Homo sapiens: one gene and its partners. The protein of the gene in region 7 interacts with the protein of the main gene of each other region in a pairwise test. Each region holds a gene or a part of one and is shown on either strand. Other genes may lie near its edges.

Region 1 (3,500 bases), on a different chromosome or scaffold from region 7:
AGGAGTTCGAGACCAGCCTGGCAAACATGGTGAAACCTCATCTCTGCTAAAAGTAGAAAAATTAGCCGGGCATGGTGGTGCATGCCTGTAGTCTCAGGTACTCAGGAAGCTGAGGCATGAAAATCACTTCAACCTGGGAGGCAGAGGATGCAGTAAGCTGAGATCTCACCACTGCAAACCAACCTGGGCAACAGAGTGAGACTCTGTGTCAAAAAACAAACAACAACGACGAAAGAGTAGACACATAAAATATATATCTGGACTTGCTAAACAGATGTAAGAACTTTAAAGTTCTACATAGGCCATGCACGATGGCTCATATCTATCAACACTTTGAGAGGCTGAGGCAGGAGAATGTCTTGAGGCCAGGAGTTCAAGATCAGCCTGGATAACAGAGCAAGATCCTGTCTCTACCAAAAAAAAAAAAAAGTTCTACGTAATTGTTGCTTTTATTCCCCTTTTTCACAATTATTTAAAACACATTTATTTTTAAATAAAGAATTAAATTCTCTAGTTAAAGGATTAATTCAATTAAAGAATTTGTAAATAATGCCATATTTCTGTAATGCTTTCCATTATCAATGCATCATTGTCCACTGGCATGAGATTTCCTGAAGATTTTTCCTTTATTAAGAATTCCACTTTCAGGCCGGGTGTGGTGGCTCATGTCTGTAATCTTAGCACTTTGGGAGGCCAAGGCGGGAGGATTGCATGAGCCCAGGAGTTCAAGGCCAGCCTGGGCAACTAGTGAGACTCTGTCTCTAAAGACAAAAATTTTAAAAAAGAAAAGATTTTCACTTTCGTAATACAGATTTCTAATGCTTTCGTTGCCTGAGTTGATGTCTTCTTCTTTCAAATAGGAGAAAAATATTCTGACAGCCCAGTTACAGGAAATGAAGAACCAGAGTATGAATCTTTTCCAAAGGAGAGATGAAATGGATGAATTAGAGGGGTTCCAGCAGCAGGAACTAAGTAAAATAAAGCACATGGTATGCATTTTTGTTTTAGTAGCTAAATACTGAATAGATGATTATTCACTCTGATTTTACTAGTCATCACTCTCTAATTGCTGATAAACATACACCAGTAATATGTGATATTAATCATATTTGATATTAATCATATTTGTATGTTTTTAAATTTATTAAAATAGAAAAGTTCTGTTTAAAATGTTCTTTTTCTGTTTTGTTTTGGGTTTTGTTTTGTTTTGTTTTGTTTTGTTTTTAACTACTGGGTATATAAATTCTCTTATAAGCCCACAAAAATGTTATAGAAATTTGGCTATTGGTCCACATTTTTTTTTTTAAATAGATGGAGTCTCACGGTGTTGCCCAGGCTGGAGTATAATGGCTACTCACAGGTGCGATCATAGCACACTGCAGCCTCAAATTCGTGGGCTCAAGCTGTCCTCCCACTTTAGCCTCCCAAGTAACTGGAACTGTAAGCATGTACTGTAGGTGTGTGCCACCATGCCTGACAAGCTTAGATTTTTTTTTTTCTTTCCTTTCTTTCTTTCTTTTTTTTTTTTTTTTTGAGATAGAGTCTCACTCTGTCACCCAAGCTGGAGTGCAGTGGCATGATCATGGCCCACTGCAGCCTCGACCTCCCAGACTCAAGGGATTCTTCCACCTAAGCCTCCCGAGTAGCTGGGACTACAGGCGCACTACCATGCCCGGCTAATTTTTGTATTTTTTGTAGAGGTGGTGTTTCGCCATGTTACCCAGGCTGCTCTCAAACTCCTGGGCTTAAACGATATGCATGCCTCAACCTCCCAAAATGGTGGGATTACAGGCGTGAGCCACCGTATCCAGCCGAGATTTAAGTGTATTTTTCTTTTTTACTTCTTTTTTTTTTTTGAGATGGAGCCTAGCTCTGTCACCCAGGCTGGAGTGCAGTGGCGCGATCTTGGCTAATTGCAACCTCCACCTCCCGGGTTCAAGTGATTCTCCCGCCTCAGCCTCCCGAGTAGCTGGGATTACAGGCACCCGCCACCACGCCCGGCTAATGTTTGTATTTTTAGTAGAGATAGGGTTTTGCCATGTCAGCAAGGCTGGTCTCAAACTCCTGACCTCAAGTGATCCACCTGCCTCAGCCTCCCAAAGTGTTGGGATTACAGGCGTGAGCCAGCATGCCTGATCTTAAGTGTATTTTTCTTAGCATAGCCCAATGAAACTTTGTATTTTTGTGTCAGCTTTTAAAAAAAGAAGAAAGTCTAGGGAAAATGGAACAAGAATTGGAGGCACGAACCAGAGAACTTAGTCGTACCCAGGAGGAGTTGATGAACTCCAATCAGATGTCATCAGACTTAAGCCAGAAGCTAGAAGAATTGCAGAGACACTACTCAACGCTGGAAGAGCAGAGGTTCTTGCTTGGTCTGTGGGGCCCTTGGGAAGAGGTGTTAGTGTAGTTCTGGCTATAGCCTGCCCACCTTTCCCCATTGTTCATTACACCACTTTCTGATTCCGGTGCTGGCAAAGGCTTCTGGACACATCCTTACCTGCCTAGGACTCAGGCCTCACCCTACCTCCAACCCATTTTCCCCTTCAGCTGCTGAAACTCAGGACAGTTCCACCCTGCTGAACAATTCAGTGTGGTTTTAGTTTGTAAAGTATTAATAGACTAAGGAAAGGCAGGTCAGGATTTCTTTCTTAAACTAGGGTGGACTTTTTCTCTTTGGGCTCCTGCTTCAGAGAGAGCCGAGGCTTTTTCCGTTGAAAACCTGCATGTGGCTAATGATGCTTGTAGCCCTGACACAGAAGAAACCATTTGTATTTTTCCTGCAGAAGACTGTATATTAGATGAGATATCCAAATTTGTTCATTGTCTGCTTTCTTTTGATGAAGAGATCATGTGATAGCTTCAAAAACAGGTGCAGAAAGTAAGATCACAGCCCTGGAACAAAAGGAACAAGAGCTCCAAGCACTCATTCAGCAGCTTTCCATTGATTTGCAAAAGGTAAGTAGAATATGAGGAGAAGACCTGGATTTCTAAGATTCATAAAAACTAATTCTTTCAGAAATTTCTGCCTGAGAGTAGCTACTGAACATACATTTCTCATGCAGTCCACATGGCTCCATTTCCTGTACTAGCCAGGCTGCACTCAGATGGAAATGGCCATACAGCTGAACAAGGGTTGCTTAGCAGAAGTAGTCAGTATTTTCCTGTCAGGAATTCTCAAAGTACACCATTTGGTCGACTCAAATATGTCTCTCTTTTTTTTTTTTTTTTCTTTTTTTTTGGGACAGAGTCTTGCTCTTGTCGCCCAGGTATTATAGGCGCCCGCCACCACACCCGGCTAATTTTTGTATTTTTAGTAGAGACAGGGTTTTACCATGTTGGCCAGGCTGGTCTCAAACTCCTGACCTCGTGATCCACCAACCTCGGCCTCCCAAAGTGCTGAGATTACAGGCGTGAGCCACCGTGCCTGGCCTGACTCAAATATGTCTTTAAGCACATAATGGACCTTGAGCATGAAAAATACAATAGTGGCTGACATGACC
Region 2 (3,500 bases), on a different chromosome or scaffold from region 7:
AAAAATACAAAAATTAGCCGGGCGTGGTGGCAGGCGCCTGTAATCCCAGCTACTCTGGAGGCTGAGGCAGGAGAATCACTGAACCCAGGAGGCGGAGGTTGCGGTGAGCCGAGATGGCACCACTGCACTCCAGCCTGGGCGACATGAGCGAAACTCTGTCTTAAAAAAAAAAAAAAAAAAAGGCTGAGGTGAGAGGATCACTAGAGCCTGAGAGGTTGAGACTGCGGTGAGCTGTGATGGTGTCACTGCACTCCAGCCTGGGTGACAAAGTGAGACCCTATCAAAAAAAAAAGAAAAGAAAGAAAAGAAGGAAGGAAGGAAGGAAGGAAAGGTAGGTTTTAGTCCAGGGCTGGTATGGCAATTCTACAAAATCAGAGACCAGACTCCTATGTTTTCTGCTTCACTCACTACTTTTAGCCCAATATTTCCATCCTCAAAATCACTTAGTCCAATATAGCTGCTAGCTCCAGCCTCACATGGATGATCCAAGCAGCAGAAAGAAGACGCAAGAGAAGAGCCACACAGTCTCTTTTGGAAGCCGCACCCAGTGACCTGCTTTCGTCTGAGTAGCCACCCCTACCTGCAAGGGAGATTGGGCAAAGTAGTTTTTCAACTCAGCCTAATGCACAAGAGGCTATTTCTAGAAGAAAGGGAGAAGGGCTAACAGGTAGGCAAGCAGCCATCTCTTCCACAGTTTTATTTCCATATTTTCTAGAGAAGGAAACAGGATTCTAAAGGAAGTCATGTGACATATTCATAAACCAGAGAATGGCATGGCTGGGAATTGAACCAGGGGCTTCTAACTGCAGAGCCTGGGCTCGGTCTTTTCTTTCTTCCTTTTCTTTCCCCTCTCCCCTCCCCTCCCTTCCCCTCGTCTCCCCTCCCCTCCCCTCCCCTCGTCTCCCCTCCCCTCCCTCCCTCCCCTTCTTCTTCCCTCCTCTCCCCTCCCCTCTTCTCCTCTCCCCTCCCCTCTTCTCCTCTCCCCTCCCCTCTTCTCCTCTCCCCTCCCCTCCCCACTTTCCTTTCTCCTTTTCTTTCCTTTCTTTTGTCTTGCTCTGTTGCCAGGCAGGAATACAGTGGTGCAATCACAGCTCACTGCAGCTTTGACCTCCCAGGTTCCTTCTGCCTCAGCCTCCCAAGTAGCCGGAAACACCCTGCCTGGCTAATTTTTTTAATTATTTTTAGCAGAGACGGGGTCTCTCTTTGTTGCCCAGGCTGGTCTTGAACTCCTGGGCTCAAGTGTTCTGCTGGCCTCTGCCTCCCAAAGTGCTGGGATTACAGGTGCCGAGCCTGGTCTCTTAATCATGACACCCTTCTCTCCCCTTGGGAAATGCGAGAGCTCCAGCTCGGATGTGGAGAAAGTGGGCACAGATTTTAAAACTCTCGGCCTCAAATATGAACAAAATGGTGCCGACAACGCTGAACTCACAGTCTCGCTGTGTGGCTTTGGGTGGTTCCCACAACCTCTCTGGGCCCAAGTTCCTCTCCGTCCCTGGGCCTAGGGCCCGGTCTGCCTGGCTGCCTCCATCACAGCCCTCCTGCCCTGCCAGGGAGAAAGCCCAGGAGCTGTCGGACTGGATCCACCAGCTGGAGTCTGAGAAGTTCGACCTGATGGCGAAGCTGAAACAGCAGAAATATGAGGTGAGACCCAGCTCCGCAGGGAGGGAGGGAGAGAGGGCAGGGCTGGGCTGGGAGGGACCAGCAAACTCCAGGCAGGGGTGGGTGGCCCGTCCCCACGTCCCCACCGGCTGTCCCAGCATCTGTCTTCTGCCTCCGCAGATCAACGTGCTGTACAACCGCATCAGCCACGCCCAGAAGTTGTGAGTGTGACCGTCTCAAGCCCTTGCTCTTGTCCCTACCCTCCCGCTGACTCTCAGGCCTCTTTCCCTCCCTCTGTGGGCTCCATCCCCCACTGCCTGAGTTTCTGCCCCTTTCTCTTTGTCCTTCCTTCTCTGTCCTCCTCTCTCTGCTCTCGGAATCCTGGGTCTCAGTTCCTTTTTCTTTTTCTTTCTTTTTTTTTTTTTTTATTGAGACTGCGTCTCGCTCTGTCACCCAGGCTGGAGTGCAGTGGAGTGATCTCAGCTCACTGCAACTTCCATCTCCCGGGTTCAAGCGATTCTCCTGCCTCAGCCCCCTGAGTAGCTGGGATTACAGGTGCGCGCCACCAAGCGTGGCTAATTTTTGTATTTTTAGTAGAGACGGGGTTTCACCATGTTGGTCAGGCTGGTCTCGAACTCCTGACCTCGTGATCCACCCGCCTTGGCCTCCTAAAGTGCTGGGATTACAGGCGTGAGCCACCGCGCCCAGCCGAGAGGGTCTTCCCTGAATCTCTCTGTTTCTCCACTCCCTCTTCCTTCCTCCCTCCTCTCCCTCTCCCTTCTCCTCTTCTCCCATTTCCTGTCTCTTTCACCCCAGCCCTTCCTGCGTGTTACCCACCCATGCCCAGATCATCCAACCCTTCCTCCCCCCACCCTGGCCCCTGACTCATAAACATTCATCAGCTCCCCCATGAACACCCTGCACTCGCCCCCAAATATCAGCTCCCACATGTCAGCGAGGCTTTGACCACCAGCCGCTGCCCCCCAGTCATAGAACCCAAAAGAGGTGACAGTTGTTTTGCTCACTGCTTCCTCTGGGCAGGGAGGGCTAATATTTTGGGGAATGGGCTTCCTGAATTGAGGGCCTGGGGCCCATTTCAGAGACTGGAGGGGCCCCTTTTTCCTGATACCACCTCATTCTTCTACAGCCGGAAGGGGGCAGGGAAGGGCCGCGTTGGAGGCCGCTGGAAGTGAGGATGCCGCCCCGGACAGTGGCACCTGGGAAGCCTGGGAGTGTTTGTCCCATCGGTAGCTTGAAATAAACGCTCCCCTCAGACACCCGCTGGGTTCTCTGATGTTATTATGGTTGAGATGCAGCTGGTCTCTCCTGGTTAATTGACTTCTTATTACCAACAAGTTACTTGAAAGAGTGTCACCAATAATCATTAAAGTACGGCAGGCTGAACCTTCACACACTGCTGGTGGGAATGGAAAATGCAACAGCTTTGCAAGCAGCCTGGCGGTTCCTCAACAAGTGAAAGCATTTCTGCAGGACCCAGCAGTTCCCCTCCTGGATGTATATCCAAGAGAACCAAGAACCTTTGTCCACACAAAAGCTTGTACATGAATGTTCATAGTAGCATTTTTATTTTTAATTTTTAGAGACAGGGTCTTGCTCTGTCGCCCAGGCTGCAGTGCAGTGGCGTGATCACGGCTCACTGCAGCCTTGAATTCCTGGGCTCAAGTGATCCTCCCACAACAGCCTCTGAAAGTGTTGGGATTTTAGGTGTGAATCACTGCACCGGCCGCAGCATCTTTTTTTTTTTTTTTTTTTGAGATGGAGTCTTGCTCTGTCACCCAGCCTGGAGTGCAGTGGCATGATCTCGGCTCACCGCAACCTCCACCTCCCGGGTTCAAGCAATTTTCCTGTCTCAGCCTCCCAAGCAGCTGGGACTACAGGTG
Region 3 (3,938 bases), on a different chromosome or scaffold from region 7:
CAGCTCTGGTAGGGGAGGGAGCATCCAAAACCTCTGGCTTCTGAGCGCCTCTCCTGCCGCCCATCCACAAAGCCCCCCACAGCCTGGCGGCTGCCCTCGACCCCGCAAAACAAAGGACTTCAGAGGCTGGACCTACAGACCCAGATGAGAAGGCAAAAGCGTAGGGAGGAGCGGCAGGAGATGGGAAGGGCGGGCCCCGCTCGGAGCAGCTGCCGCTTCCTCCCAAAGTCCCACGAGGGGCCTGAGTCACGGGCCACCGCCCTGGGTCGGCGAGCTGGGGGAAGGGATCTGGACACCTGGCGTGTCCGGGCGGGAAGCTGGTGAGGGCCCCTGGGGACAGAGCGGAGGACCAGTGGTTGGGGCGAGAAGAGGGCAGTCCCGCAGCGAGTCCCACGCGGGGTGGGAGGGATCTAGGCCCCGCCCTCTCCTCGGCTCCGCCCTGCGCCCCCTTCCCTCTCCTCATTGTCCTTAGACAAAGCGGTCGCCGCCCCCGCCCGGCCCCCTGGTCTCTGTCTCCGTCCCTCCTCCTTTGCTGCCTCTTTCCCTCCTCCTCTCCCTCCCTCCTCCCCTCCCTCCAGTCTCCGGATCTCCCTCGGTCCCTCTCTCCTCCTCTTCCTCTCTCTGGACGCCCGGCTCCTCCGCACCCCCTCCCCCGGGGGTCCCGCGGCCTGTGAGTTGACTGAGGGGCTCAGACTTGGGGAGTGGGTGTCTCCTCGCCCCTGTCCTTGCTCCCGTCCCTGGCCCGGACCTTGGCTGTCTCCTCTTTGTGCCGAGATTGTCAGTCTGTGCGGCTACAGCGGGGTGGAGACGGCCGGCTCTGTCACGGCTTCATGAGAGCGGGGACGGGGCGCAGGACTTGCAGGCGCCGGGGAGAAGAGACATGGAGCCGGCCCTTGGCACTCTGGGGTCGCGTGGGGCAGTCGGTGGGGGAGGCAGGCGGTGGTGACAGGACAGGGTGGGGGTGGACGCCAGGGTTCTGGGAACGCGCTGGCAGCCCTGACGCCCGGGTTCCGAAAGTCTCGGGGGTGGCTATTTCCCCCGACCCGCCTCGGGGGCGGAGTGCGGGGCAGAGGGGTGGGGGCTGGGGAGAGGCGTGGCCCGAGCGGTGCTGGAAGCGGAGCCGGGACCTTTGGGGCCCGCGCTGAGACGCGCCCGGCTGCTGCCGCCGCCCTCCTTTCCCCTCTTCCCTGGTTTCCCTTCTCCTCTAGACCTGTTCGCTCTCCGCCCCTCCTTGCCTCCCCAACACCCCCTCAGGTCCCGTTGCCTCCTGGTCCTTTCAGGGATTCCTGGTCCTTCCTTCCCACACTAGCCTCCCTGGGGTATCGCTGAGGCAGCCTGGCCTGCACCCAGGTTCCCCTCACCCCTGCCACATTTCTCTCTTCTCCCTCACGCCAACTTTCCTTTTCGCCCTTCTCTCTCTTTCTCACATCCTAGAGACGGTCTTTAATACGCATTAACCCTGTGCTGCCACATCTGGCTCCTGCCCTCATTGCCTCCAATCCGGACTCTTCCTCTCACATCACCCCCACCACCCCCAACTTGGGCTCACAACTTCTCTTCACTTTTTCCATTTCCCCAGTTCTCTGCCTTCCGTCTTTCCCTCTGTCCTCATCCTTAGCCCCTCTGCCCTGCTTTGTGTCCCACCTCTCCCCCTCCACTTCCTCTCCTCCCACCCTCAGTCTCACCCCCGGGCTGTCTCACTCTCTGGAGCCTCTCCTTCCTGTTCTCTGTCCCCAGTGCTCCCTACCCTCACCTCAAGACGACCATGGCCACCATCCCAGACTGGAAGCTACAGCTGCTAGCCCGGCGCCGGCAGGAGGAGGCGTCCGTTCGAGGCCGAGAGAAAGCAGAACGGGAGCGCCTGTCCCAGATGCCAGCCTGGAAACGAGGGCTCCTGGAGCGCCGCCGGGCCAAGCTTGGGCTGTCCCCTGGGGAGCCTAGCCCTGTGCTAGGGACTGTAGAGGCTGGACCTCCAGACCCGGATGAGTCTGCGGTCCTTCTGGAGGCCATCGGGCCAGTGCACCAGAACCGATTCATCCGGCAGGAGCGGCAGCAGCAGCAGCAGCAACAACAACGGAGTGAAGAGCTGCTAGCAGAGAGAAAGCCTGGGCCTCTGGAGGCCCGGGAGCGGAGACCCAGCCCTGGGGAGATGCGGGATCAGAGCCCCAAGGGAAGAGAGTCAAGAGAAGAGAGACTAAGTCCGAGGGAGACCAGAGAGAGGAGGCTGGGGATAGGGGGAGCCCAAGAGTTGAGCCTGAGGCCTCTGGAGGCTCGGGACTGGAGGCAAAGCCCAGGAGAGGTGGGAGACAGGAGCTCCCGACTGTCAGAGGCATGGAAATGGAGGCTGAGTCCTGGAGAAACTCCAGAGCGGAGTCTGAGACTAGCAGAGTCTCGAGAGCAAAGCCCCAGGAGAAAAGAGGTGGAAAGTAGACTGAGCCCAGGGGAATCTGCCTACCAGAAGTTGGGCCTGACAGAGGCCCATAAATGGAGACCTGACTCCAGAGAGTCTCAGGAACAGAGTTTGGTACAACTGGAGGCAACAGAGTGGAGGCTGAGGTCAGGAGAAGAAAGACAAGACTACTCGGAAGAATGTGGGAGAAAAGAAGAGTGGCCAGTTCCAGGGGTAGCTCCAAAAGAGACTGCAGAGCTGTCCGAGACCCTGACAAGGGAGGCCCAAGGCAACAGTTCCGCAGGAGTGGAGGCAGCAGAGCAGAGGCCTGTGGAAGATGGCGAGAGGGGCATGAAGCCAACAGAAGGGTGGAAATGGACCCTGAACTCCGGGAAGGCTCGAGAATGGACACCCAGGGACATAGAGGCTCAAACTCAGAAACCAGAACCTCCAGAGTCAGCAGAGAAGCTTCTGGAATCTCCCGGTGTGGAGGCTGGAGAAGGGGAGGCTGAGAAGGAGGAGGCGGGGGCTCAGGGCAGGCCTCTGAGAGCCCTGCAGAACTGCTGCTCTGTGCCCTCCCCCCTCCCACCAGAGGACGCTGGGACTGGAGGCCTGAGACAGCAGGAAGAGGAAGCAGTGGAGCTCCAGCCCCCACCACCAGCCCCTCTGTCTCCCCCACCCCCAGCCCCAACTGCCCCCCAACCTCCTGGGGATCCCCTCATGAGCCGCCTGTTCTATGGGGTGAAGGCAGGGCCAGGGGTGGGGGCCCCCCGCCGCAGTGGACACACCTTCACCGTCAACCCCCGGCGGTCTGTGCCCCCTGCGACCCCAGCCACCCCAACCTCTCCAGCCACAGTTGATGCTGCAGTCCCGGGGGCTGGGAAGAAGCGGTACCCAACTGCCGAGGAGATCTTGGTTCTGGGGGGCTACCTCCGTCTCAGCCGCAGCTGCCTTGCCAAGGGGTCCCCCGAAAGACACCACAAACAGGTAGGGAAGCAGCCAAGCCAGACTTCTTAGAAGTCCACTTGTCAATTTTCTCTGGACTCTGGTCTCTTTCTTTTTTATACCCCTGTTTTCTTGTCTTCCTCTATTCTTTCTTGTTAATTCCTGCCACCACCCTTCCTCGCTCTGCACATACACCCTTCCTTCTCAGAGCCCTCCTTTTCCATTTTGAGCCCAAAAGATCCTGCCCCAGCAAAGGCTGTCTCTGGGTGTGTCTCTTTCAGGGTGTGCCAGGCTGCTCATTCTCCCTTCCCTTGGGCTCTGAGTTTCCAACCCCCTTTTCTTTCCTTCCTTTCCTGAGTGTGACCTGCCCCAGCCCATCCAGTGGGAGAGCCTAAAGTGACGAGCTTGAATCAGTGAGGGCAGGGTCACCAGGGTGAGAGCACTTGCAGTTTTTCTGGGGAGAAGGGATAGGGAGCCTGGGGTGGTGGAGGGGGTGGGGTGGGTTTGTGTTCTAGGGAGAAACTGCAGGGAGAAGTGAATGGAGAAAGGTCCAACTGCCCCGTGGGAAGGAGGGCAGAGCTGAATAGGGACATCCTAGGATGGA
Region 4 (3,500 bases), on a different chromosome or scaffold from region 7:
TTTTCCCCCGCTAGGGCAGGAGCCTTGAGGAATTAAAATAATAAATTCCTTTTTTTTTTTTTTTGAGGCGGTGTCTCGCTCTGTCACCCAGGCAGGAGTGCAGTGGCACAGTCTTGGCTCACTGCAACCTCTGTCTCCCAGGTTCAAGTGATTCTCCTGTCTCAGCCTCCCGAGTAGCTGGGATTATAGGCGTGTGCCACCATACCCAGCTAATTTTTTGTATATTTAGTGCAGATGGGGTTTCTCCATGTTGGCCAGGCTGGTCTTGAGCTCCTGACCTCAAGTGATCTGCCTGCCTCAGCCTCCCAAAGTGCTGGGATTACAAGCTTGAGCCACGGCGCCAGGCCCAAATGCCCTTCATTTTATGTGCTAGTTTAGTGACCGTTTCCGTCGTTGGTAGCCAAAAACATCCCAGCTGAATGGAGAAGGTCTCCACGAGGTCAGGTAGGGCTGCAGTGGCGGTGCAGTTGAGACGGGATGATGCCTGAACTGGGGCTGGCCCAGGAGGAGAGAGACGGGGAGTCAAACTCAAAGGGAAGTTGGAAGACTCAATCCTCTTCCCCATATCTCTCTAGGCAGCAAAGATGGTTACAAGCTTCCCTGGACGTGGGACACACCATCAGGAAGGGGCCTGGCTGAGGGGACCCCTACCGCAGGCAAACTAGGACCAACTCTTGGGGCTGGCACCACCAGGAGCCCAGGCAGTCCTCCAACTCTGAGAGTCCATGGAGACACAGGTGAGACACGTGGCTGGGGTGAGGAGACTGGGACGGTATTTGTCCTGGGGTAAAGAGACAGATTCCAGACTCCCCACTGGAACCCTTACCCCAGAAAGACTCAGCAGAAATATACCCTAAAACAAAGGGTTATCGGCTGAGCATGGTGGCTCATGCCTGTAATCACAGCACTTTGGGAGGCCGAGTTGGGAGGATTGCTTAAGCTCGGGAGTTTGAGAGCAGCCTGGGCAACATGGTGAGCCCCCCAAGATATGAACATTAGCTGGGTGTGGTGGTACGCACGTGTGGTCCCAGCTGCTTGGGAGGCTGAGGCAGGAGGATCCCTTGAGCCTGGGTGCTCGAGGCTGTGGTTGTGCCACTGTATTCCAGCCTGGGTGCCAGAGCGAGACCTTGTCTCAAATAAAGACAAAAACAGAACCAAGAGGTTATTATCTAGACCGCTGGTCATCAACTAGGGTCGATTTTGCCCCCAAGGGGAATTTGGCAATATCTGAAGATATTTTGGATTGTCATGGCAGGAAGTGAGAGGCTACCCATTGGCACCTGATCGGTAGAGGCCGGGGTGGTGATAAACATTCACAATGCACACGACATTCCCCATAACAAAGAACCACCCAGCCCTAAATTACAATAGTACCGAGGTTGAGAAACCCCAGCCTAGATGGCATAAGTCACTGTGACAAATAGGAAAATGATAGGAAACCCTAGATGAGAAAGAGGAAAACAGGTGATTCCCAGAAAAGGAAGCCCAAATGGCTGAGTGTATTTAGAAATGCCCACGCTCATCAGGAACCAGAAAATACAAATTAAAACAATGGCAAGTACAGAGGAGAATGAGAAAGGTGGGTATTATCCAGTGTGAGTGAGGATGTGGGAAGACAGGCAACCCCACTGGACAGAGCTGTTTGATAAAGACAATCCAGCAGTATTTAGTAAAGTTAAGCATGATTAGGCTGGCTGCAATGGCTGACGCCTGTAATCCCAGCACTTTGGGAGGCTGAGGCGGGCAGATCACGAGGTCAGGAGATCGAGACCATCCTGGCTAACACGGTGAAACCCTGTCTTTACTAACAATACAAAAAATTAGCCAGGCGTGGTGGTAGGCACCTATGGTCCCAGCTACTCGGGAGGCTGAGGCAGGAGAATGGCGTGAACCCAGGAGGCAGAGCTTGCAGTGAGCCGAGATTGCGCCACTGCACTCCAGCCTGGGCAACAGAGTGAGACTCTGTCTCAAAATAATAATAATAATAATAATAATAATAATAATAATAATAATAATAATAATAGGTGTGGTGGCAGGCGCCTGTAATCCCAGCTACTCGGGAGGCTGAGGCAGGAGAACTGCTTGAACCTGGGAGGCGGAGGTTGCAGTGAGCTGAGATCGCACCACTGCACTCCAGCCTGGGCAACAGAGAAAGACTCTGTTAAAAAAAAAAAAAAAAGAGAGAGAGAGAAGAAGGGAGGAAGGGAGAAAGGAGGGAAGGAAATCTGCATGAGCTCCATGACGTAGATCTATAATTTTGCCCATTTCTCAGATGAGTGAAATTGAGGCACAGACATCAGTGACTCTGACATCAATAATTATTAGAGTGCTTATTCCATGCTAGACATTACACTAAGTGCTTTGCACAACCATGGTCTCCCTGAGTCCTTTTGACAGCTCTGCAAGGGAGATACGCGGATCATCCACAGTCTATAGCTGAGGAAGAAACTGAGATTCAAGCAGTGAAGTAACTTGGCCGTGGTCACCCCGCTAGGAAGCCATGCAGCTGGGGTTTAAACTCGGACAGCCTGCCTTGAGCACAAGCCCTTTACTTAACCGCTTCTCCAATCCTGCAAACAAAGGACAAGGTGGGGAAGGGATGCGCCTGAAAGACCCTGCCCTGCAGGAACAAGTGGAAATCTGTAGATCTGTGTGGTTCAATACGGTAGCTAAGAGCACCGGGCATGGTGGCTCACGCCTGAAATTCCAGCACTTTGGGAGGCTGAGGCAGGCAGATCACCTGAGGTCGGGGGTTCAAGACTAGCCTGAACAACATAGTGAAACCCCATCTCTACTAAAAATACAAAAAAATTAGCTGGGCATGGTGGCACATGCCTGTCATCCCAGCTACTCAGGAAGTGGACACAGGAGAATCACTTGAACCCAGGAGGCGGAGATTGCAGCGAGCCAAGATCGCGCCACTGCACTCCAGCCTGGGCAACAGGAGTGAAACTCCGTCTCAAAAAAAAAAAAAAAAAAAAAGTTAAATGAATTAACACTTTGAAAATGAAACATTTGCCGGGCGCAGTGGCCACGCCTGTAATCCCAGCACTTTGGGAGGCCGAAGCGGGCGGATCACGAGGTCAGGAGATCGCGACCGTCCTGGCTAACACAGTGAAACCCCATCTCTACTAAAAATACAAAAAATTAGCAGGACATGGTGGCGAGCGCCTGTAGTCCCAGCTTCTCGGGAGGCTGAGGCAGGAGAATGGCATGAACCTGGGAGGCAAAGCTGGCAGTGAGGCGAGATCGTGCCACTGCACTCTAACCTGGGCGACAGAGTGAGACTCCGTCTCAAAAAAAAAAATAAAATAAAATAAAAGAAAATGAAACATTTAGTTTCTCATTCACACTGGCCGCATTTCAAGGGCTTGGTAGCCACATGTGGCCAGTGGCTACTGTATTGGCACGGTAGATCACAGCGCATTCCCATCACTGCAGATGTGAGATTTCATTGCCTAGACTCTATGTGCAAACAACTTGGGTTCAAGTCTTAGCCC
Region 5 (3,500 bases), on a different chromosome or scaffold from region 7:
AAGGGGAGGTGGTCAAGTGAAGGCAGTGAGTGTGCACACCTCTGAAGGAACTTGGCCTAGAAGAGAGGAAGCCAGTGGCTCAGGGAGACCCAAGATTAAGCACTTGAGCTCTGAGAGGGAGGATCCAGAGTGAGGGAGGTGCAGGAGAGCTGTTTGGTTGGGCCCCCATGCCTGTTCTGTCACCTCTTCTGTCCCAGAGCCTGGAGACATTCTGGGCAGAGGACACCTACATCTTTGCTGATGATGTGATAATCTCCAAACCTCACTCCACCCTTGATGAAAATGGTCTTAGGAGACATACCTACCTTACCCTATAAGACTGTAAAGAGAACAAATGGGGGTGATGATGCTTCTGAGGCCCTTTAAGCACATTGTGTTTCAGTGCAGTGCTACTGTCAACCTTTTACTACAATGACAAAACACTGTAGCATAGGATGTAGTGTGTCCTTCCTTGGAGATTTGCAGGGAAGAGTGATCACTGGTCAGCTCTTTGCTCTGGAGGAGGCAAAACAGGAAAGAATGGAGGTCTTGGTTGTGGACAGGTATTACAGGGGCTCTTTTGCATTATTTTTCTGAATACAAAATGCTTCCCACCTCGGGAAGATTGAATCAGTGTATTTGGCCATTTAGAATTTCTCATGTCAGGAAAATTTAGTCAGCAAATGATGGGTGACTGTCCTCTGGGTGTAATGTAGCAACATGCTATGAACAAAGACCCTTCTGTAACAATAGTGGAAAAGAACTAACACCCACTATTTCTACTCTTCACTAGTAACTCTCCCTCCTCCCCCATCTTGCAACCCTTGTTTGTAGGTACTCGAAAAGATTCCATTCCACAAGTCCTACTCCCTGAGGAAGAGAAACTCATCATTGAAGAAACCAGAAGCAACGGCCAGACCATCATGGAAGAAAAGTGAGTAGAGCAGGCAAAACCTTGCCTAGTTTCTCTTGGGGCTGGCAAGAAGGTCTGGTAGGACGGGGAGCTCCTGGAGAGTCTATGATGAGGGACAACTCCTCCTTACCTGGGAATGCGGCCTGCTTTGCTGTGCATGCATTTGGGAGACTTTAGAGGGCTGCCCACTAACAAATGGAAAGAGGAAGGAAAAGCAGCGGTGACAGAGCCCTCCAAGGCAGCTCCAGCTGGCAGCTGCCCCTGCAGCCAGCTCCCCATCCAGTAAGCTGCTTCTGAGCACATGGGAATATCAATGCCCTGGATGGGTTTAGGAAGTGGCTGGGAATTCCAGCCACAGAACCAATTTCCTTGCCCGGAGAGATGCCACTCACATGTTTTGAGTCAGAAGCTGTGCTTTCACATTTTTGACATCATTTAAAATCCTACAGCAATCCGGTTAGATAAACATTACTCTCACCACTTTCACAGATAAAGAAACTGAGGTACAGGAAGTTCAGGGAAATTATGTCTCTGACTTACCTTTACACAGTAGTGTGGGTGACCTAATGGGGGAAAATCAGGTTAAGTACCTTCTGGCTCATAAAATTAACACAAAGTAGCCAAATAATTCATTTGTCTAAACTTGAGTCATTTCTGAAGTCAGGCCTAAATTTGCATAGGACAGCATATTTCAAGGTGCTTGGCATTGTCAATGCATTTTACATCTGATGTGTGAAGTGATACAGCAAAATGGTTAAGTACTTGGGCTCAAGCAAAAAACAGTGTGGTTCAACTCCCACTTCTGCTACTCATTAGCTGTGTGACCTGGGGCAAGTTGCTTCACCTCTCTGTGCCTCAGTTTCCTCATCTGTAAAATAAGGATGACGGTAATGCTTTCAGAGTTGTTGTGAGGTTAAGTGAAATAAGTATAAAGGCTAGCTCAATAAATAATGTTAGTTAATTCTTATTATAACGATATTCATTTTTACAACTTTGTGAGGTTTTCAGAAAATGTGCTATTATCCCCATTTTACATGTAAAGAAACTAAGACCAAGAGAGGATGAGAAGGAAACTGGTTCCCAGAGAACAGAGGACTAGTAAGTGGCAGGATCAGAACCAAAACTTAGATCTCCAAAATCTTTGTCCAGGGAGAGACCCAGAGAGGAAAAGGCTGTTCTGCAACCCAGTAATTACCAAAAAATTACTTTTTTGGGTACTGTATGGTTGAGATATTCCAGAAAGAATGCCTCTGACTTTGTGTCATGTGCAGTCAGAGAACTGGGAAGGGCAATGTCATAGCACAGATACTGTAGACTAGGCAATCTTGTGATACCTCTCATTATATGATAGGTGATGTTCATTCCTGCCCCAAAGCTAGAGAAATCAAAACCTTATGACGGGAATTGAAAACGTCGAACTCCTAAAAACAGAGAGCAGAATGGTAGTTTCTAGGGACTGAGGGGAAAGGGGAAATGGGGAGATGTTGGTCAAAGGGTACCAAATCTCAGGTATGCAGGATGAATAAGTTCTGGAGAACTAATGTACAGCATGTTGACTACAGTTGGCCCTCTGCATGCGTGGGCTCTGCATCTGTGGATTCAACCAACCCCAGATCAAAAAGATATTCAGAAAAAAATGGATGGTTGCATCTGTATTGAACATGTACAGATTTTTTTCATACCTAGTAAAGTTTTTCTTTTTCCGCCTTTGTTGAGGGATAATTGACAAAGGTGTACAATGTGATGTCTTGATATATGTATGCACTGTTATACCATATTGTTTTTTCCTAAGAAATATGGTATAACAAATATTTGCATAGCATTTACATTGTATTAGGTATGATAAGTAATCTAGATATGATTTAAAGTGTATGGGAAGATGTGCATTGGTTATATGCAAATACTATGCCATTTTATGTTAAGGACTTGAGCATCTGTGGATTTTGGTATCCATGGGGGTCCTTGAACCAATACCCCATGGATACCGAGGGAGGGAAGACTGCATAGTTTACAATGGAGTATACTTGAAGTTTGCTAAGAGTGTAGATTTCCACCACACACATACAAAAGGTAACTATGTGAGGAGATGGATATGTTAATTAGCTTGATTATGGTAACCACTTCACAATGTATACATATATCAAGACATCACATTGTACAGCTTTGTCAATTATCCCTCAACAAAGCTAGAAAAAGAAAAACTTAGTGACGGGCCCTAGTCTCTTGTGTTTTGTTCACCCAAGCTGGGAAGTGAGTAGAAAAGGAGGAGGGAAGTATAGAAAAGGTGTAATGACATTGCATTTAGCTAAGCATGTGTGGTGGTGGTTGTTCTTCCATCAAAGTCAAGAAGATGGAAACCATTTAGAGCAGTACCATTCCCAATCAGCTAGAAAGTCCACTGTTTTTCAGGATCTGTATTTTTATAAAGTGGCTTTTATTGTTAAGTATTTTAACAGTACCTCAGTGCAAGCCATTTGTCTCTGAATTTTATCTTTATTTTCTAGGAGCCTTGTTGATACTGTTTACGCCTTGAAGGACGAGGTCAGAGAACTGAAGCAGGTAATAAAATATAAAATCATTTTCTCGGGTAATAGAACCATTCTCTTTT
Region 6 (3,500 bases), on a different chromosome or scaffold from region 7:
CATGCACCTGTAGTCCTAGCTACTTGGGGGGCTGAGGTGGGAGGATTGCTTGAGCCCAGGAGGTTGAGTCTGCATTGTGCCATGATTGCACCACTGCACTTCAACCTGGGCAATAGAGCAAGACCCTGTCTCAAAAAAAAAAAGCATGTAAAATATCATCTAGTATGGTTATGATTATGTAAAAACATCATCTAGTATGGTTATGATTATGTAAAAAGAAAATTGTGGACCAGGCACAGTAGCTCACTCCTATAATACTAGCACTTTGGGAAGCCAAGGCAGGAGGATCACTAAAGGCTGGAAGTTCAAGACCAGCCTAGGCAGCAAAGTGAGACCCTGTCTTAACAAAAACAAAAACCCCAGCTGGACGCGGTGTCTCATGCCTGTAATCCCAGCACTTTGAGAGGCCGAGGTGGGTGGATCACGAGGTCAGGAGCTTGAGACCAGCCTGGCCAAGATGGTGAAACCCCGTCTGTACTAAAAATATAAAAATTAGCCGGGCGCAGTGGCAGGCACCTGTAATCCCAGCTACTCGGGAGGCTGAGGCAGGAGAATCGCTTGAACCCGGGAGGCGGAGGTTGCAGTGAGCCGAGATCGCGCCACTGCACTCCAACCTGGGTGACAGAGCAAGAGCAAGACTCTGTATCAAAAAAAAAAAAAAATTACTGTGGAGGAAAAACAGATATACAAGTATCAAGAGTAGTTACGTAAGGGTGATTCTTTTTGTTCTCTATTTTTGAAATGTTTCGTAATGTGCTTTTACTACTTTATAATGAATAGAATACAAAAAAAATAAGCCAAGAACCCAATACTTTCTGTAAATGGAAAGGGTAAAAGATCTGCACTTTACTTTTCCACAATTCTATCCCATTGATTCTACTGTGTGCTCAATTTCCCATGGCAGTTACGACACGTGGATCCCAGCGAGTGAAATTGAGGCATCTGTGGAAGATGCTCCAACTCCTGAGAAACCTAGGAAGGTGAGCTTTTCTTGTATCCCCTCTTCCCCAAAAAGAATGCCAGGAACAGTCTACCCTTTGGAAGTGAAACAGAGGCTTGTATGCCCTTGAGCTTTTTCTGTTAAGGGTCCCCAGACAGAGCTGTGGCTTCCAGGCTTCTCTGCAGCATGATCTGCCTTTGTACTTTAGGTTCATGCAAAGTGGATCCTGGACACCGACACCTTCAATGAATGGATGAATGAGGAAGACTATGAAGTAAATGATGACAAAAACCCTGTCTCCCGCCGAAAGAAGATTTCAGCCAAGACACTGACAGATGAGGTGACAAATCCTGTTCTTTTTTTCCTGGCGCCCTTAGCATAAGTCTCAGAACAAATCTTCAGTGGGGATTGTAGGCTGACATTTGTCCTGATTCTCCATCCTATAGGTGAACAGCCCAGATTCAGATCGACGGGACAAGAAGGGGGGAAACTATAAGAAGAGGAAGCGCTCCCCCTCTCCTTCACCAACCCCAGAAGCAAAGAAGAAAAATGCTAAGAAAGGGTGTGCCAGCCCCTAGCCTGCCCCCGTGTTCACCATTCTCTCCACATCATGTTGAAGGAAGGAAAGACAAATCCCTTCCTATAACCACCTGGCCCTGACCTGGGTGTGCCATAATACTGCAGGTGTCCTGAGAGGGAAGATGAGGAGATCTTTAGCTGCTCAGTTGTTAGTTCTGGTTCTGGCCCCACTAGTACATTTAAAGAGAGCTTTATCAAGTGAAAAGCCTTTGCCACTTCCCATTACTGTGTGATTACTGGTTTCTGTTTGTACTCAGCTCTACCCTTGGAATTCTCTGTCACTTCCCTTCCCTTGAACTTCAACTTCCAGGGACTCCTTGTCCAAGGATGACTGGGTTCTCTTTCACTCTCTTTCCTTCCCAGTCCCTCAACACCTTACACTAAGTCAAAGCGTGGCCACAGAGAAGAGGAGCAAGAAGACCTGACAAAGGACATGGACGAGCCCTCACCAGTCCCCAATGTAGAAGAGGTGACACTTCCCAAAACAGGTACAGGCCAGGCTGAGCTCCTGGGATCCACCCCCACTCCCCGTCTTGACTCTCCTTTGCCAAACCCCAAGTGAGCTGATTTCTCAGGTCCACCTCCCAGTCTACAGGATCTTTTCCTTAAATTTAGCTGGTTATTGGAATTACGGTCATTACCCTGGAAAATCCTCTAACTGTATATTCATATCTGAGTTGTGGACTGTGCTTTGTGCCTGATAGTAGTTGTCTCCAAACTCTTTGATTATGTGTTTCTGACAGTAAAATATATTTGAGCATGGCCAGGCACGGTGGCTTATGACTGTAATCCCAGCATTTTGGGAGGCCGAGGCGGGCGGATCACCTGAGGTCAGGAATTCGAGACCAGCCTGGCCAACATGGTGAAACCCCATCTCTACTAAAAATACAAAAATTAGCTGGGCGTGGTGGTGGGCACCTGTAATCCCAGCTACTCGGGAGACCGAGGCAGGAGAATTGCTTGAACCTGGGAGGTAGAGGTTGCAGGGAGCCGAGATTGTACCACTGCACTCCAGCCTGGGCGACAAGAGCAAAACTCCATCTCAAAAAAAAAAAGGGCCGGGCACGGTGGCTCATGCCTGTAATCCCAGCACTTTGGCAGGCCGAGGTGGGCGGATCACGAGGTCAGGAGATCGAGACCATCCTGGCTAACATGGTGAAACCCTGTCTATACCAAAAATACAAAAAAATTAGCTGAGCGTGGTGGCGGGTGCCTGTAGTCCTAGCTACTCAGGAGGCTGAGGCAGGAGAATGGCGTGAACCTGGGAGGCGGAGCTTGCAGTGAGCTGAGATCACGCCACTGCACTCCAGCCTGGGCAACAGGGCGAGACTCCATCTCAAATAAAAAAAAAGAAAAAAAAATGTATATATGCATTAATTATGTACTTGTACTGTTAAGCCGCTACCATGGGAACGTTTTAAAACACAAACATATCTAAAAAATTGAAAAATGTAAAGAATGATAAAAACAAACATGAAGAATCAGGGCGCGGTGGCTTACGCCTGTAATCCCAGCACTTTGGGAGGCCGAGGCAGGCGGATCACGAGGTCAAGAGATCAAGACCATCCTGGCTAACACGGTGAAACCCCATCTTTACGAAAAATACAAAAATTTGCCAGGCGTGGTGGTGGGCGCCTGTAATCCTAGCTATTCGGGAGGCTGAGGCAGGAGAATCACTTGAATCTGGGAGGTGGAGGTTGCAGTGAGCCGAGATCGCACCACTGCACTCCAGCCTGGGCGACAGAGCGAGACTCCGTCTCAAAAAAACAAAACAAAAAACATGAAGAGAAGTTCTGTATTCTCTCCCTGAGTTGCAGTGGATCATCTTTTGCGTCCTATGTTAGAACCCCACTTTGGAGACATTGCTCCACCAATACTGGTTTACAGTCTGTATTCTGTAGACTCACCCCAGGTATTCCAGAAGTGTATTTCAGGGGTAGGATTAGGGCTGCCACCAAGAAGAGTTCTGGCTTCTACCTCC
Region 7 (3,243 bases):
ACGCACTCTTCAAACCCTTGAGATTGAACTTCAGTCCCTCTTAGCAACGGTAAGCGAAAAGTTACAAAACAGATTTGCTTTAGAAATTGAGAAAAAAATAATCGAAGAGAATTTTCTTCCAACATAATTACATATTTTAGTTTTTAACCATTAATTACAGTGCTTGACATAAGACATATTTGCATTTTGCACATGACAATCCTCTTTGCCTACAAAGTATAGCTGGATGCCAATAATTATGAAATATTAGAAATTAGCAAATACAGTCAAGATACTGGAAAAAGAAAATCGTTTTGACTTTGAATCTTCTATCATAAGTCAAAATATCAAAAACCACTCATATGTGGAGGCTAAAAAAGTTGATCTCAGAAGTAGAGAGTGGGATAAGTGCTTACTAGAGCCTGGGAAGGGGATGGGGGGATAGGAAGAGGTTGGTTAAAGGATACAAAATTACAGAGAAATAGGGAGAATCAGTTCAAGTGTTCTATAGTACTGTAGAATGACTACAGTTAAGAATAATTTATTCTATAATTTCTAATAGTTCAAGGAGAGGATTTTGAATGTTCCCAACACACACAAAAAAGATAAATGTTTGGGACCATGGATATGCTAACTGCCCTGATTCTATCACTACACATTGTGTGTTTTGAAATATAATTATGGAACCCCATAAATATATACAATTCTTATGTGTCCATTTAAAAAAAAAGAAAAAAAATCCTACTGCTTAAAGAGAGCAAAAATACATTTGCACCACTCCTAGCTTCATCTAGCATTCCTTTTGGCCACTCAATTAAGAGCACTTACAAGTTCCTTTGTAAGTGGCATAGACAGAGGAAAAGTCGAGGCATGAAGGCTGACTATAAAACTAAACATGTGTAATGATAATCATAACTGCTTTCATTAAGGGTTTGCCCAGCACTTCCGCCCACATGTGAGTCCACAACAACCCCGGGGCATGGGCAGGGCAGACGTTATAACTCATGTCATTATTTCCAAAAGAGGACTCTGAGATTCGAAGAAGTTAAGCAATTCCCACAGTCCCACAGTTGGGTATGAAGGAATCCAGAAGTTCTCTCCAAATTTTCTAACTCCCAAGTCTATACTTTTCCCACTATGGCTAGTAAACCACCAGAGTTTATCCACAGATGAGGCTATGAATGTATATAAAATCAAGACTTTATATAAAAAATACTTGCAGGTGAAAGGATAAGACACTCTCATCTTCATTCCATGTAAAATTGCAGTGAGTGTTCCCTCTGAGTATATCTGTAAACCCATTCAGATTCACAAGCCAATGAATTGAACTACTGTATTTAAAGTCTAAGAAGGTAATTATTTTCTGTGGTTTATTCTACTCATGGAACGTTTATGCGGTTTACTGCAGGATGACTTTTTAATAGAAGAGCTACAATCCTCATAAGACAAGACTGTCACATGGCTAGAAATGAGTAGCAAAGTATAGGCGGACTTCTAGTTGTGGGTAAAGTAGCAAATTGTGCCACACTCTACAAGCACAGGCTATATTGGTGCAGGGGAGGGATCTTTCAGTCTGTGCCCTATGAAGAGACAATTTCATCTTTTTTAGCACACCTGGGCATCTGAGGGACATTCAGCACCAGCTGTGTCATTCTCAAATAGAAAAGTAGTAGGACATTTAATAAAGGCAACAATTAATATTGAAGAAGTGGAATCTTTTGGGTAAATATAATTATTTGCATGATGTAAGGATAATTCTCTTAATTATCTCTTAAATGCTTTGGCTTATTCTAAAACACCGTGACCTTTTCTATTAAACCATGTCTTACCAAACTACAGAAACACTCCCTGGAGTGCTCCTTGACAGAGACCGAGAGTAACTACTGTGCACAGCTGGCACAGATCCAGGCTCAGATCGGGGCCCTGGAGGAGCAGCTGCACCAGGTCAGAACCGAGACCGAGGGCCAGAAGCTCGAGTATGAGCAGCTCCTTGACATCAAGGTCCACCTGGAAAAAGAAATTGAGACCTACTGCCTCCTGATAGATGGAGAAGATGGGTCAGTATTGCCGCCATTGAGAAAACAATTCATTTTTAAGGTTACTAAAGATGATTTGAAATCAAGTACAAAATATCTATGATCTAGATCACGCATAGATAATACTCTTTTAGTGTTATTTCAGAATGCAGTGAATTCCCACCTTAAATCATTATTTTTCAGTTTCCTCAGTAAAACAGAATAATTAATATAAGCGCTCTATACTTTTACAGCTCCTGTTCTAAATCAAAAGGCTATGGAGGCCCAGGAAATCAAACAAAAGGTAAACAAAAGCTGTGTTAGGCATTCAGTGTTTATTTGTATGTGTTTCAAATGATGTTTTATTTCCTATTTATGAATTTGATAAATTCTAAACAGTTTATATGTGGCATTTTAGATTCATCTAAAACCACCATTGTCAAAACAGTTGTTGAAGAGATAGATCCTCGTGGCAAAGTTCTCTCATCCAGAGTTCACACTGTGGAAGAGAAATCCACCAAAGTCAACAACAAGAATGAACAGAGGGTGTCTTCCTGAACTCCAGCCTCTGAGACAGAATGGCCCCCAAATTAAAATACCAAAATGAAGCTAGTTTCCTAAATAAGGGTCCCCTTATTTTTCTGCTTTTCTTCCAATGAATTAAGACAAGTTATTTTTAGAATAGTACCATTTCTTTGGCTTTTTCTCTATGGTGGTGTTTCAATAAAAGTTCTTCCTGTTGCAAGTCATCTTCCCTGGTTCTGGCCAATCTTTGCATTTTAGATATACCCTCCCAAATGGAAGCTGAATTTTGTCTTTAATTTCTTCTGTTTAATTCAACAGTCTTCACAAGTTGGAAGTAAGTTTAATGTGAAAACTAGTTGGAGTCTTTTTGACTTCTCTGTAAAATTTTGTCTCCTTTGTCTCAGTACGAAAAGTACTTACTGAGAACACGCTATGTGCCAGATAACGAGGATAAAACAGTTAATAAGATCCAGTCCCTGAAGTCAATATGCTCATAGATGTAGAAATAAGAACCTGAAGAATCAGAAACAAACTTAAACATAAAGGAAAGGCTATAAGTAGTGATATTTGAAGGTAGAAGGGGAAAAAGAGAGCTGTGAGGACAAGGGTAAGAGGAGAATTCCAGCAGGCATCTAATTCATAATCTTGATCACTCCACCATAACGGTAGGAATTCACAAGTTCTCTCCTTCGTTTTTGCCATCCAAGACTGCAGAGCCATGTGG

What was found.
Region 1: the proteins of KRT27 (region 7) and GOLGA1 interact in binary tests that used the Homo sapiens proteins (3 or more experiments, as listed by UniProt).
Region 2: the proteins of KRT27 (region 7) and TNNT1 interact in binary tests that used the Homo sapiens proteins (3 or more experiments, as listed by UniProt).
Region 3: the proteins of KRT27 (region 7) and PPP1R18 interact in binary tests that used the Homo sapiens proteins (3 or more experiments, as listed by UniProt).
Region 4: the proteins of KRT27 (region 7) and SSC5D interact in binary tests that used the Homo sapiens proteins (3 or more experiments, as listed by UniProt).
Region 5: the proteins of KRT27 (region 7) and ARHGEF6 interact in binary tests that used the Homo sapiens proteins (3 or more experiments, as listed by UniProt).
Region 6: the proteins of KRT27 (region 7) and SMARCC2 interact in binary tests that used the Homo sapiens proteins (3 or more experiments, as listed by UniProt).

What each region holds. Positions count from the first base shown.
Region 1 is NC_000009.12:124,920,584-124,924,083, reverse strand, and holds part of GOLGA1 (golgin subfamily A member 1), read left to right. Parts: intron 1-860; coding exon 861-989; intron 990-2,191; coding exon 2,192-2,361; intron 2,362-2,843; coding exon 2,844-2,955; intron 2,956-3,500. UniProt on the Homo sapiens protein: Involved in vesicular trafficking at the Golgi apparatus level. Involved in endosome-to-Golgi trafficking. Mechanistically, captures transport vesicles arriving from endosomes via the protein TBC1D23.
Region 2 is NC_000019.10:55,132,207-55,135,706, reverse strand, and holds the end of TNNT1 (troponin T, slow skeletal muscle), read left to right. Parts: intron 1-1,502; coding exon 1,503-1,641; intron 1,642-1,779; coding exon 1,780-1,820; intron 1,821-2,746; coding exon 2,747-2,792; 3' UTR 2,793-3,009; downstream 3,010-3,500. UniProt on the Homo sapiens protein: Troponin T is the tropomyosin-binding subunit of troponin, the thin filament regulatory complex which confers calcium-sensitivity to striated muscle actomyosin ATPase activity.
Region 3 is NC_000006.12:30,683,846-30,687,783, reverse strand, and holds the start of PPP1R18 (phostensin), read left to right. Parts: upstream 1-1,138; 5' UTR 1,139-1,737; coding exon of another isoform or gene 1,738-1,765; coding exon 1,766-3,376; intron 3,377-3,938.
Region 4 is NC_000019.10:55,512,436-55,515,935, forward strand, and holds part of SSC5D (soluble scavenger receptor cysteine-rich domain-containing protein SSC5D isoform 1 precursor), read left to right. Parts: intron 1-575; coding exon 576-737; intron 738-3,500.
Region 5 is NC_000023.11:136,669,433-136,672,932, reverse strand, and holds part of ARHGEF6 (rho guanine nucleotide exchange factor 6), read left to right. Parts: intron 1-813; coding exon 814-913; intron 914-3,396; coding exon 3,397-3,451; intron 3,452-3,500. UniProt on the Homo sapiens protein: Acts as a RAC1 guanine nucleotide exchange factor (GEF).
Region 6 is NC_000012.12:56,179,484-56,182,983, reverse strand, and holds part of SMARCC2 (SWI/SNF complex subunit SMARCC2), read left to right. Parts: intron 1-904; coding exon 905-980; intron 981-1,148; coding exon 1,149-1,280; intron 1,281-1,386; coding exon 1,387-1,502; intron 1,503-1,882; coding exon 1,883-2,007; intron 2,008-3,500. UniProt on the Homo sapiens protein: Involved in transcriptional activation and repression of select genes by chromatin remodeling (alteration of DNA-nucleosome topology).
Region 7 is NC_000017.11:40,776,308-40,779,550, reverse strand, and holds the end of KRT27 (keratin, type I cytoskeletal 27), read left to right. Parts: coding exon 1-49; intron 50-1,818; coding exon 1,819-2,036; intron 2,037-2,248; coding exon 2,249-2,298; intron 2,299-2,412; coding exon 2,413-2,552; 3' UTR 2,553-2,743; downstream 2,744-3,243.